Linked DNA regions of Homo sapiens: region 2 is linked to region 1. The links come from fine-mapping of genetic effects on gene expression. A gene starts in region 1. The other region holds a variant in brackets. All regions are shown on one strand. Distances are between the middles of the regions.

What was found. PIP is the estimated chance that this variant, and not a neighbour inherited with it, causes the effect.
Region 2: its variant is the best candidate, but not a certain one, in a credible set for the expression of S100A10 in aorta (GTEx, PIP 0.59).

What each region holds. Positions count from the first base shown.
Region 1 is chr1:151,991,773-151,997,151 of GRCh38, forward strand. S100A10 (S100 calcium binding protein A10) reads right to left here and starts at 2,087. Exons shown (of 3, transcript NM_002966.3): 1 at 1,980-2,087. RefSeq lists an enhancer at 127-1,326 and silencers at 1,895-2,194, 2,205-2,254, 2,385-2,514.
Region 2 is chr1:152,022,340-152,027,718 of GRCh38, forward strand. LOC105371442 (a long non-coding RNA gene) reads right to left here and starts at 5,249. Exons shown (of 3, transcript XR_001738235.2): 1 at 5,152-5,249; 2 at 4,301-4,480. It also overlaps the pseudogene NBPF18P. The variant A/C (reference allele first, on the strand shown) is at 2,384.

The DNA.
Region 1 (5,379 bases):
TGTGCTCTACAAAAGTCACATTTTTTGAACTGTCAGTAGAAAGCAGGGAGGCACACAGTCTCAGCTCCACCCTGACCTCACTGGAGTGGCTGCTTAGGAGGCTGGCCAGCACACGGGAGGAAAGGGGCCTATATGATGTGTCGGAGAAAAGCTAGGAAGAGCATCACCCAGAAAGCAGGGTAAGACCCAAAAATTGCTTCATGCCCAGTAGACCAAAAAAATTGTAAGAACCTAGATAAGAAACTCCAAATGGTGGATCAAGGGCCACAGTGAAGAAACTATCCTCTGGCTGTGAAGGAACAAATACACCATTTGGAAGGGATGATTAAAGAGAAACTGGATAGGAATCTGTGGGGGCAGGGCCGATGAAGAAACTTCCAATAAGTTATATGAACTCATTCCCACTCCAACCCCTGGCATTATCTTTTGCAATTTGCTGAAACATGTTGGAGGCAAAGATCACCGACTGGGTGTTTCCATGAGCCTGGCCTCACCTAAAACGCACAACATAAAACTCCATTCCTGGAGACTGAAACTCAAGCTTCTGGGGAAAAATATCCGCAACAACTGCAAACCTCTTAGCGGGAAAAGCTACCTCCCAAGTAAGGCTGAGGCAGGCTGCCAGGCGCATACTGGCCGATAACGAAAAGCGGTCTCGCCAAGGCCCTGCAGATCTAATTACTGCCCTCACCGGCAGTTCAGTCGAGAAACCTCTCCTGCAGACTGGCAGCCAGACCAGGTGTGACTCACTTCCTCTTGGAAAATGCCCTCTGAGATGGCACAGTTCTCCTTTTCCTTCAGGGAGTGTTCTGTCCAAACCATCCACCGAGAGTATCTGCAACCGGCCACACCCACATGGTCTCACAGCTGAGTCACAGGCCTCAGACCACTGGGAGAATCCTGGAGCCCTTTGTGCTAACCACGCCCTGCAGAAGCTCCCGCAGAGACGGAACTGGGTGGGGGCAGAAAACGGGGTGGGCTTAATGCATCCCAGAATCTGGCTTAGGGCTCCCCTGTGCTGGCCTGGCTTGGAGCGCTCTGCATTCCACCCCAGCCAACAAGGCAGAGCTCCTGGTTTCACTTAGGCAGAGCTGGACTGAGGCTGGACAGGCAGCAGTGTCCACGGCTAGGGGCAGCGCCATTCCTTCGGCCAAAGCACAGGTGGTGAACCAAGTACCAAAGGCACGTCTGTCTGTTTCACTGCACCGGGCCAAATTAATCTATGATTGGAAGATCCTTCATCAAGCCTGCTCTTCCTCCATCTCTTTCTGGTTCCACTTATTAAGACAGCAAGGGAACCCTTTCAGTAGAGAAACCACGTCACACAGGGCCCTCTCCCACAAACCCCAGCCAAACTGCTGTAGAAAGAAAACAAGTGGACCTCCCTCCCTCAGCAGGAAGACCCTTTCCGTCGAGCAGACAACAGGAAGCCCCGACCAGAAACGCCTGTTTGGCCGACGGACTAAGGGTTACGGAAGGGACGCCCCAGCTGCCTACTCGTCCTACCCGCGCCTACTTGGGCGGTACAGCCGGGAGCAGGCTACGAACATGCAGACCCGGCCTGCGAGCGGAACCCACCAAGAAACACGCCAGCCAGGGCAGGGGCGTGTAGGAGGGATTCGGTAACCCGAGAGACGAGTGGGAAAGTAGGAAAGGTGGGAGTAAAGCAACGCAAACATAAAGGGAGGAGGGAAGAGGTTCAGGCGCACCAATACCACGGTCCCCTCCTAAAGAACAAGTGCCCCCTCCTCTGGTCCGCGTGGGTCTGGGGGCGGCCGCGCCCGGGCCGGGGAGGGGCGCTGCTGGCCTCGTTTGGGTGTGGCCCGGAGCACTGAGCAGCGGATTCCCCACCAGCCGCTCCCCGCCCAGCCCCGCGGTGCTCCGGACGCCCCGCGAAGCCGGGTGCAGGGTTTTCCCCGGGCAGCAGGTCCGGGCCTGGGGACTACCCAGGAGGGGCGCGTGGGCCGGGCGGAGCTCACCTTGGCCGAGGCGCGGCGGACGCTGGGCGAGCTGGGCGAGCTGGACGCGGGGCGGAGAGGCGAGCGCGGCGGGCTGTGCGCCTTCCTTAGTACGTGCGGCGGGTGGGTAGAGGGAGGCGGCGCGGGAGCGGGAGGAGCCTGGCGGGCGCTCGGCAGGGCGCTCCCCCAGCCCTGTCTCCTCCCCCTCTTCCTGCCCCCGACTCCCCCGACCCCGGGCGCGCGGCCCACGCCCTGCCCTCGCTCCCGGACCCGCCTCGCAGAGGCCTCGCCCGCCCCAGACAGAGCGTTCTTGTAAACTTCTCTTCAGTAGAAACGGTCCTGCTCTCGAATATTTCAGGGCATCCCCACCCTGAGCCTGCCCTTCCTCTCGGGTTTGGTTTTAGAAAGTGTACAAATCAAAGAACCCGGCCGTCCTGCGGGTGGGGCACGCTGGCGCAGAACCAGAGGTAACCGGCTCTGCGGCCACCTACGGGTCTAGGAATTACTTGCTGGATGACCCTGCAGGGAGTGGCACGTGGAGTCCTATCGACCTCAGAGGCACTATCAGATTAGCCCTAGGAGGTCCGTCTGGGGGTCTCGGCGGCCTGCGCCAGTGGAGGGGCGGCACCTCCCCAGAAGCCGGGCTTCCCGCCCCACCGGCCCGCGAGGTGCCGCAGGGAGGGTGCGGTTTGGCTTGTCAGCACCCAGGGGCGTCACAAACCCTTTGTTGAACAGGGGATTTACCCCTTTGTGTGGCGTCACTTGATCAATAGTTCAGTTTCAGTGTGGCTAATAGTGTTAAAAACTGGCCGGGCGCGGTGGCTCACGCCTGTAATCCCAACACTTTGGGAGGCCGAGGCGGGCGGATCACCTCAGGTCAGGAGTTCAACACCAGCTTAGCCAACATGGTGAAACCTTGTCTCTACTGATACAAAAATTAGCCGGGAGTGGTGATGCGCGCCTGTAATCCCAGGAGACTGAGGCATGAGAATCGCTTGAACCTGGGAGACAGAGGTTGCAGTGAGCCGAGATCGCACCACTGCACTCCAGCCTGGGTGACAGAGTGAGACTCTGTCTCAAAAAAAAAAAAAAAAAAGAAAAAAGAAAAAAAGAAAAGAAAAAGGTTAAAAACTAAGTTTCCAAGGCAGTATGCTGTGGTCCTTGAAAAGTCCTTTAGAAGAATTTTCTGGAATAAATTTAGAGAAAACCTAAGTGTTTCCTAGGGGATGCTTACCAACTCCTCGCCCCTCCCCCGCCCGCCCTCTTTTATTTTAATTGTGACTCAGGGTTAAATACAAACTACTAGCAGCTGTTGGTGGAAAAGAGCCCAATCCCAAACTCTGGGGTTTTCCTTTGTTCCCAAGGGAGGCCTTGGGAGGAATGAATGATCCTAAAGGAATGAGCAGACCTGGGGAATCCTCCAAGTGCCACCTCTGACTAATATTGGCTGTTGCCAGGAAAACCCAACTTGGATTTCAGCTATTACTTTCCGTGCAACCCTGGTGCTGACTATTCAAGGGGACAGCTCTTCAAGATCTTCCTGTATACAGTACTTCCCAGTCCCCAGGTCACAGTCACCAGTGGAGGAAATCTCGGATCCCTTTTGTTGCAGGGATTGCAATGCGACTGGGTTTAGAATGGGAATGCCTGGGTTTGCGTACCCCTACTCATCTGATTTCTTCATCTGGTCCACAGACCTTAGGAGTGCTTTAGTGTATGTGGTAGGCCTGGGAATTCAGGGATTAGAGAATCAGTCTCTTTCTCTGAAGAGTTCCAAGTATTGGGCGTTAGATAAGCAAACAATTAAAATCCAGTGTGCTTAGTGAATGGTAGAGGATACTATTGGATACTAGGAGAACACTGAGGAGGGGCTTCCAAGTCCTCTTGGAGTGGTCACAGAATAATTTCTGCAGGAAGCAACATTGGGTAGAAATTTAAAAACAACAATAACACTTATTGTAACTTTTTAATCTGTACAAAGATTCCATTCTTAGAAGGCTTGGAAAATATATCAATGTATAAAAAATGATTTATAAATACATGAGCCAAAGATAAACATTTTCATATTTCTAGTCTTTTTATGCATATGTAACAAATATTTGCATAATTGTGATCATACTGATTATAAAATTAAGTACAGTCATTCACTGCATAACAGTGTTTGAGCCAACGATGGATCATGTATTCAGCAGTGGTTCCATAAGATTATAATAGAGCTAAAAAAATTCCAGTTGCCTAGTGACCTTGTAGCTGTCTAGCGCAATACTTTACTCATGTGTTTGTGGTGATGCTGGTGTAAACAAACTACTGTGCTGCCAGTTGTATAAAAATATAGCACATACCAATTATGTGTAGTATGCAATACTTGATAATGGTAATAAATGACTGTTACTGCATTATGTATTTACTACACTATACTTTTCATCATTATTTTAGAGTGTATTCCTTCTACTTATTAAAAAAACAGTAAAACTTAAAAAAAAGTTTAAAAAACAGCCTCAGGCAGGTCTTTCAGGGGGTATTCCAGAAGAAGTCATTGTTATCACAGGAGATGTGTGTTTTTGCCCTGGAGACCTTTCAGTGGGACCAGATGTGGAAGTGAAAGACAGTTATATTGATGATCCTGACCCTGTGCAGGTCTAGGCTAATACGTGTGTTTGTGTCTTAGTTTTTTTTTTTTTTTTTGTGTGTGTGTGTCTTAGTTTTTAACAAAAAACTTAAAAAAAAATAAAAATTTTAAAAATAGAAAAAACTTACATAAGAAGGATATAAAGAAAGAAAATATTTTCTACAGTTGTATAATGTGTGCTTTAAGCTAAGTGTTATTACAAAAGAGTCAAACATTTAAAGAATTTACAAGTTAGGCTGGGCGTGGTAGCTCACACCTGTAATCCCAGCACTTTGGGAGGCCGAGGCGGGCGGATCACGAGGTCAACAGGTCAAGACCATCCTGGCCAACGTGGTGAAACCCCATCTTACAGAGAAAGAACTAGCCGGGCGTGGTGGCACGCACCTGTACTCCCAGCTGCTTGGGAGGCTGAGGCAGGAGAATCGCTTGAACCCGGGAGGCGGAGGTTGCAGTGAGCCGAGATTGTGGCAGTGCACTCCAGCCTGGAGACAGAGTGAGACTCCATTTCAAAAAAAAAAAAAAAAAGAAAAAGGAAAGAAAAAGGAATTTCCAAGTTTATAACGTAAATTTACAGTAATCTAAGGTTAATTTGTTATTATTATTTTGGTTTTTTGAGACAGGGGCTCCCTCTGTCGCCCAGGCTAGAGCATAGCAGTGTGATCTCTGTTCACTGCAACCTCCGCCTCCCGGGTTCAAGTGCTTCTTGTCCCTCAGCCACTCGAGTACCTGGGATTACAGGCATGTCCCACAGCGCCTGGCTAATTTTTGTTTTTTTTAGTAGAGATGAGGTTT
Region 2 (5,379 bases), 31 kb after region 1:
CCATGCCTAGATGTTCATGTGTCTGCACACATTGGGCTGACTATGCTTGCAGAATGTGAAGTGAGAAATATCTGAATGAACATTCCTGTATTTACAGAAAATGATGAAGATGTGGATGACGATGTTTACGTTGAGGAGGCTGAGAAAGTGCGGGAATCACGTGCCCCCAGGTAACACTGAATAATCAGGAGCAATAATGGGTGGTAACATATGAAAAAGATCTAGGAGGCACACTCTCTCTGGCGTCTACATTGGGCCAAAAGCCTGCATTCCCCTGGCCACAATATGTTAAATTCAACCCAGCTTAGACACAGGGTGTGGCAGCTGTTATGGTTCTCTGTGTGTGCTGAGTGTCATGTCTGTACCATACAGGGATAGCTGAGTCTCCATCCTCCTCAGCTCCTATCTGCCCAGTGCAATGAACACCAGCTGCTGTCTTCCTCTTTGGCTCCCATAGCAGCCATGCTCTGTTGCAGAGAGTGGAGGAGTGCCTGTTCCCTCTTAAAGGGAACCTCCTGTTTGCTTTCTGGGACCACTCTCTTATGCTTCCTGTCAAAACTAGCTAGGACTCCCTGAGGTCCAATCCCTCTCTGTTTAATCTTCTGTTATGTCTGTGTCACCTGGCTCATCAGGGAGGTGCGAAGCCTGAAGAGAAGGAATTGATGAAATGATCATACAGATATGTATATTGCATATATCTATGCAATATACATATTGCATCAATATCCCATGATATTGCCGGCTCAATGAGGACAGAGTCCTCTCTCTATTATGATTTGGATTTGAAGGGAAGATGCCATGGGTCCTAAACATCGCAGCATGACCAGCGTGTGCTGCCCACGACCTGCAGTGCCATGGTCAGGTGGAAGTCATTTTACTTCAGTAGAGGACAGTGTTCTCTTCTGACCTTTTCCTCAGTGGCTAGATCTGTATCTCTCTCTCTCTTCTCCCATCTGCCCTCCGTTCCCTGCCCCGCTTTGTTTTTTCTCTCTGTTCCCACCCTGCTGGCCCCTTCCACCTGTTTTCTTTTCTTCAGCTTTCATCGTTCACCCCCCTCTGCCCACCCATATGCCCCAGGCTAAGTCCCCTGCACATTCCTGGGGAGGGGCGTAGATGTGTATGGTTTTAGGCAGTGCCCTCTAGATGTGTCCATGATGGGGAAACATGGCTCAGCTGCCAGTATAATGCTTTAAAAGAGTGGCCACTTTTGAAGGCCTTTTACATCTAGGATCCTCTATGACTTAAAATATATGGGCCACATTGGAATTCCTTGTTCCCCAGGACCTTGCAGTGGATGCCTTCTTTCACTGAGCATTCACAGGGTGCCTATTAGGTGCCAGGCCCTGCTCTGGGCTAGGGGCTCCATTGTGAGCAATCCTCAGTTCATTGCCACATGGAGCCCACCTCTGCAGGCATCAAGAGGGTGGGGCCGTCAACCACATCTACCAGTGCTAAGCATCAAGGACAATGAAGGCTGAGAATAGCCTGCTGGATTTGGCTATATGGTAGGTAAGGACTTGTTTGATTCTGGGGAAAGCAATTTCAGCAATGGGGAGGAGAAAGCAGCCTTGTTGCAGGGAGCTGAGGATGCTTAGTAGTGAGGAGATGAGGAGAACGGTGAGCTAGCATTTATGAAGCAACCTTTGCTTCCTATGTGATAATTACACTTTTCCCAACTTTCAGATTTGTGTTTCTTCCCTTGCCAGAAGTTAGTCTCTTTACAGACTGGACTTGCAACTTTCCGGAGTCATTGTCTTTGCTTGCATTCCTACCAGAATCCCTAGTGACTCTGCGGATCATGTTTAATGATAATGTTGACACTAAGTCATTGTGAGGGTAAAATATGAATCTGGTAACAGAAACGTTTTTCTCGGTGGAGAGAGGTGGGGCCGGGAACCAGGACTACTGATGCTTCTCTCTGCCCCCACTGTCTAACTTTACAGGCAGCTCAAATCACTCAGAATCCAGTTTGCGGCCAGTGCAGACTTGCCTCTCCCTCCCAGTCTTCTTTCTTGGTGGTGACTGGGAGAGATTTAGGAGATTAGGGAGGGCCAAGAAACAAAGCATGAATTATCACGGTTGCTGCACAGGTGTGGTCCTCTCAGTCTCTCTGCCTGAATTCCCAACACATCTCTCACCAGGTTGCTGGATGGTACAATAGGGTCATTGTAAGGTGGGTGGGTGCAGTGAGTCAATGAAGTCTTCCTGAGGTGCAGGGGGGCAGGGAGGGATCCTCTCCCCTATAGCCGGAGCTGGGTCACAAATTGGTGGTGGAATGCCCAGCTTCAGGGTCCATTTGCACGGCTGTATATTTCAATTATACACTTGGTTCTTTTTTTATATATATATACTTTTGTTCTTGTTTTATGCATTTGATCTATTG[A/C]TTTATTTGACCATTTTAAACACACTCATGCTAACATCCTTCCAGATTGCTCTCCCTCTTGTTACTCAGTGTGAAGTCTCTAGTCTGTTGTATGTACTTGTCATCCCTCGTGTGCCTGTGAGCCTATTCTAAGTGTATTTATCTCCTGTGGACATCCTCCAAATGTCTGGAGGCATCTCCACGAGGTGGTTTTGCATTTGTCTAGGGTTTTATGGCGCTTACAACTCTGGGGTAGTTTTTGTTTTATTTCTTTAATAGCATGTGTTTGAACCCCATGCCTTCTGGGAACACAGGTGCAGTGCTCTGATTTCTCTCAGATGACTTTGCCTCGCTCCAGGGCTCATTCTGTGTCTTGAGAGGTGGTGGACTGAGCTTTCCAGTCTCCATCAGTGACAGGGCAGCTCTTTAGCAGCTCTCTCTTTTCACTAAGAGTTCAGTTCTAGTTCTCCACCATGGCCTGGGCCACGTGGCCTCCGCTCTGGGGCACCGTGACAGCTATCAGTTCCCTTTGTGCTTCCGGCACCTGAATAATTCTCTTTCTGCCTTTTAATTGACCAAGTATTTTAACTTTTTGAGGGGAAGGGGAAGATTCTATGTTATCCAGCATTATTTGCGGTAGGAAAGGGGCTTTCTATATCTGCTGCATACTAAATTTTGGCAGAAGTCCTACCACCATGGCCCAAATCTCCATCAAAAGAGATAGATATTTGCTTGATTTTTTTCTTCTTGTTTTTCTTCATTAAAAAAATGTACATTGGATTTAGCTATGATTTCTTGGATATGACACCAAAGCCACAGGAAATGTAAGAAAAAAACATATAAATTGGACTTCATCACAACGAAAAACTTTTGTGCATCAAAGGACACTATGAATAGAGTGAAAAGGCGACCCACAGAATGGTAGAAAATATTTGCAAATCACATATCTAATAAGGGCTTAATACCCAGAATATAAAAAGAACTCCTACAACTCAACAAAAACCAAACAACCCAATACAAAATGGGCAAAAGAATCAAATAGACATTTTTCCAAAGAAGATATACAAATGGCCAATAAGCACATTGAAAAGATGCTTAACATCACCAATCTTTAGGAAAATGTGAAAGGAAACCAAAATGAGATACTATTTCACATTCATTAGGATGGCTATTATTTTAAAAAGAAGAAAATAGCAAGTGTTGGTGAGTATGTGGAGACTTTGGAAACCTTGTAAGCATTGCTGGTGGGAATATAAAGTGGTGCTGCCACTGTGGAAAGATGTATGGTGGTTCCTCAAAAACTAAAAATAGAATTACCATATGATCCAGCAATTCTATTTCTGGGTTGTATTCCCGGAGACTTAAATCATTATTTATACACCTGCATTCATTGTAGCACTATGCACAATAACAAAAGGTGGAAGCAACCCAAGTGTCCATCAATAGATGAATGGATAAACAAAATGTGGCACACACACACACATACACACAAATATACACACAATGGACTATTATTCAGCCCTGAAATGGAAGGAAATTTTGACATATGCAACAACATAAATGAATCTTGAAGACATTATGCTAAGTGAAATAAGTCAGACACAAAAAGACAAATGTTGTATAATTCCACTGACAGGAGGTACCTAGAGTAGTCAGATGAATAGAGACAGAAAGTAGAATGATGGTGACCAGGAGGTAGGTGAGGGGAGAGAGGGAAGTTATTGTTTAATGGATGCAGACTTTCAGTTTGGGAAGATGGAAACGTTATGGAGGTATTGGTGGTGATGTTTATACAATGTGAATATACTTAATGCTACTAAAATGTACACTTAAAAAATGGTAACAGTGTTAAATTTTTATGTTCTGTATATTTAACCATAATAAAAAAATTTAAAATTTTCAATAACTCAAGAAAATACACACACAAAAAAAGTCTACCTGAATTAGTGTTGTCACTTTACTCTGTGTTCCCCTTGGTGGCAGGAGTAGCCATGCGGTAGAAGAATACCAATCTCAGCTTTCTGCAGTGTGCTGGATATTCTGTTTGCTCCTCCAGCTCCACTTTTGGTGCTTCTCTGCCCAGCTCAGACTTCCAGTAGGGTGGACCAACAGGAGGCACTTGCAGGCGATCAGAAGGTGGGAAGAGAGAGAAATCAATATTTATTCCCCGGGGTCCCTCCTGCCAGGCTGTGGTTTGACAGTGGCTGTATTTCTACATCTAAGGCCACAGCATCCGTGAGTGGCCCCTCTTCCTGGGCTATATGGCTCTTGAATTCCAATAATTTCTCCCTTGCCAGTCAGGCTGAGAGGTGGGAACAGCATCCTAATTTTGCTAGTCCTGGTGCTTTGCCATCTCTTGTTATTTATCTTATCTCTTACATCTTCATAAATAGTGCATTCCTTAAATTCTCTTCAGTGACCCGTTTGAGTGTGCATGTGTTTCCTGTGGGAACCCAGACTGATATACATGGTATGTCCCACATCTGGTATAGCATTCTCTTATCGCTTATTCATGTATCATATATTTTTTTCATTCAACAATTTTTTTTTGCTACTATATGCTGGGTACCACATTAAGTCCTAGCAATACAAAGATGCCTTTAATTAGGTCTCTGTTCTTGAGCTCAAAGTCAAGTTAGAAAAGACAGACAAGTAAGAACACTGTAAGTAGAGTGGCAAGTGCTATGATAGAGGCAAGAATGGAGTGCTCTGGAGCATAGAATAAGAGCATTAAAATCAGCTTTGGATAGGGGTCTTAGGAAAGGCCTTCTTGGGGAGATGATACTTACACTGCTCTACAGGGCAAGTAGAAACAGGTGGAAAGGCGGCCAAGGCCTTTCAGGGCAGCAAGAAGAGCGTGTGTCAAAGCAAAGAGGCACATCACTGTGACATCAGTTCTAGCCTTGGTTGGCAAGGTGGGCAGGGAGCAGACCACAAAGGCTCTTGAGTGCTCCAGGGAATCCTGTATATTCAGAAGGTCCAATGCCTGGTTTTACACATGGGAGCGATACCAGAAC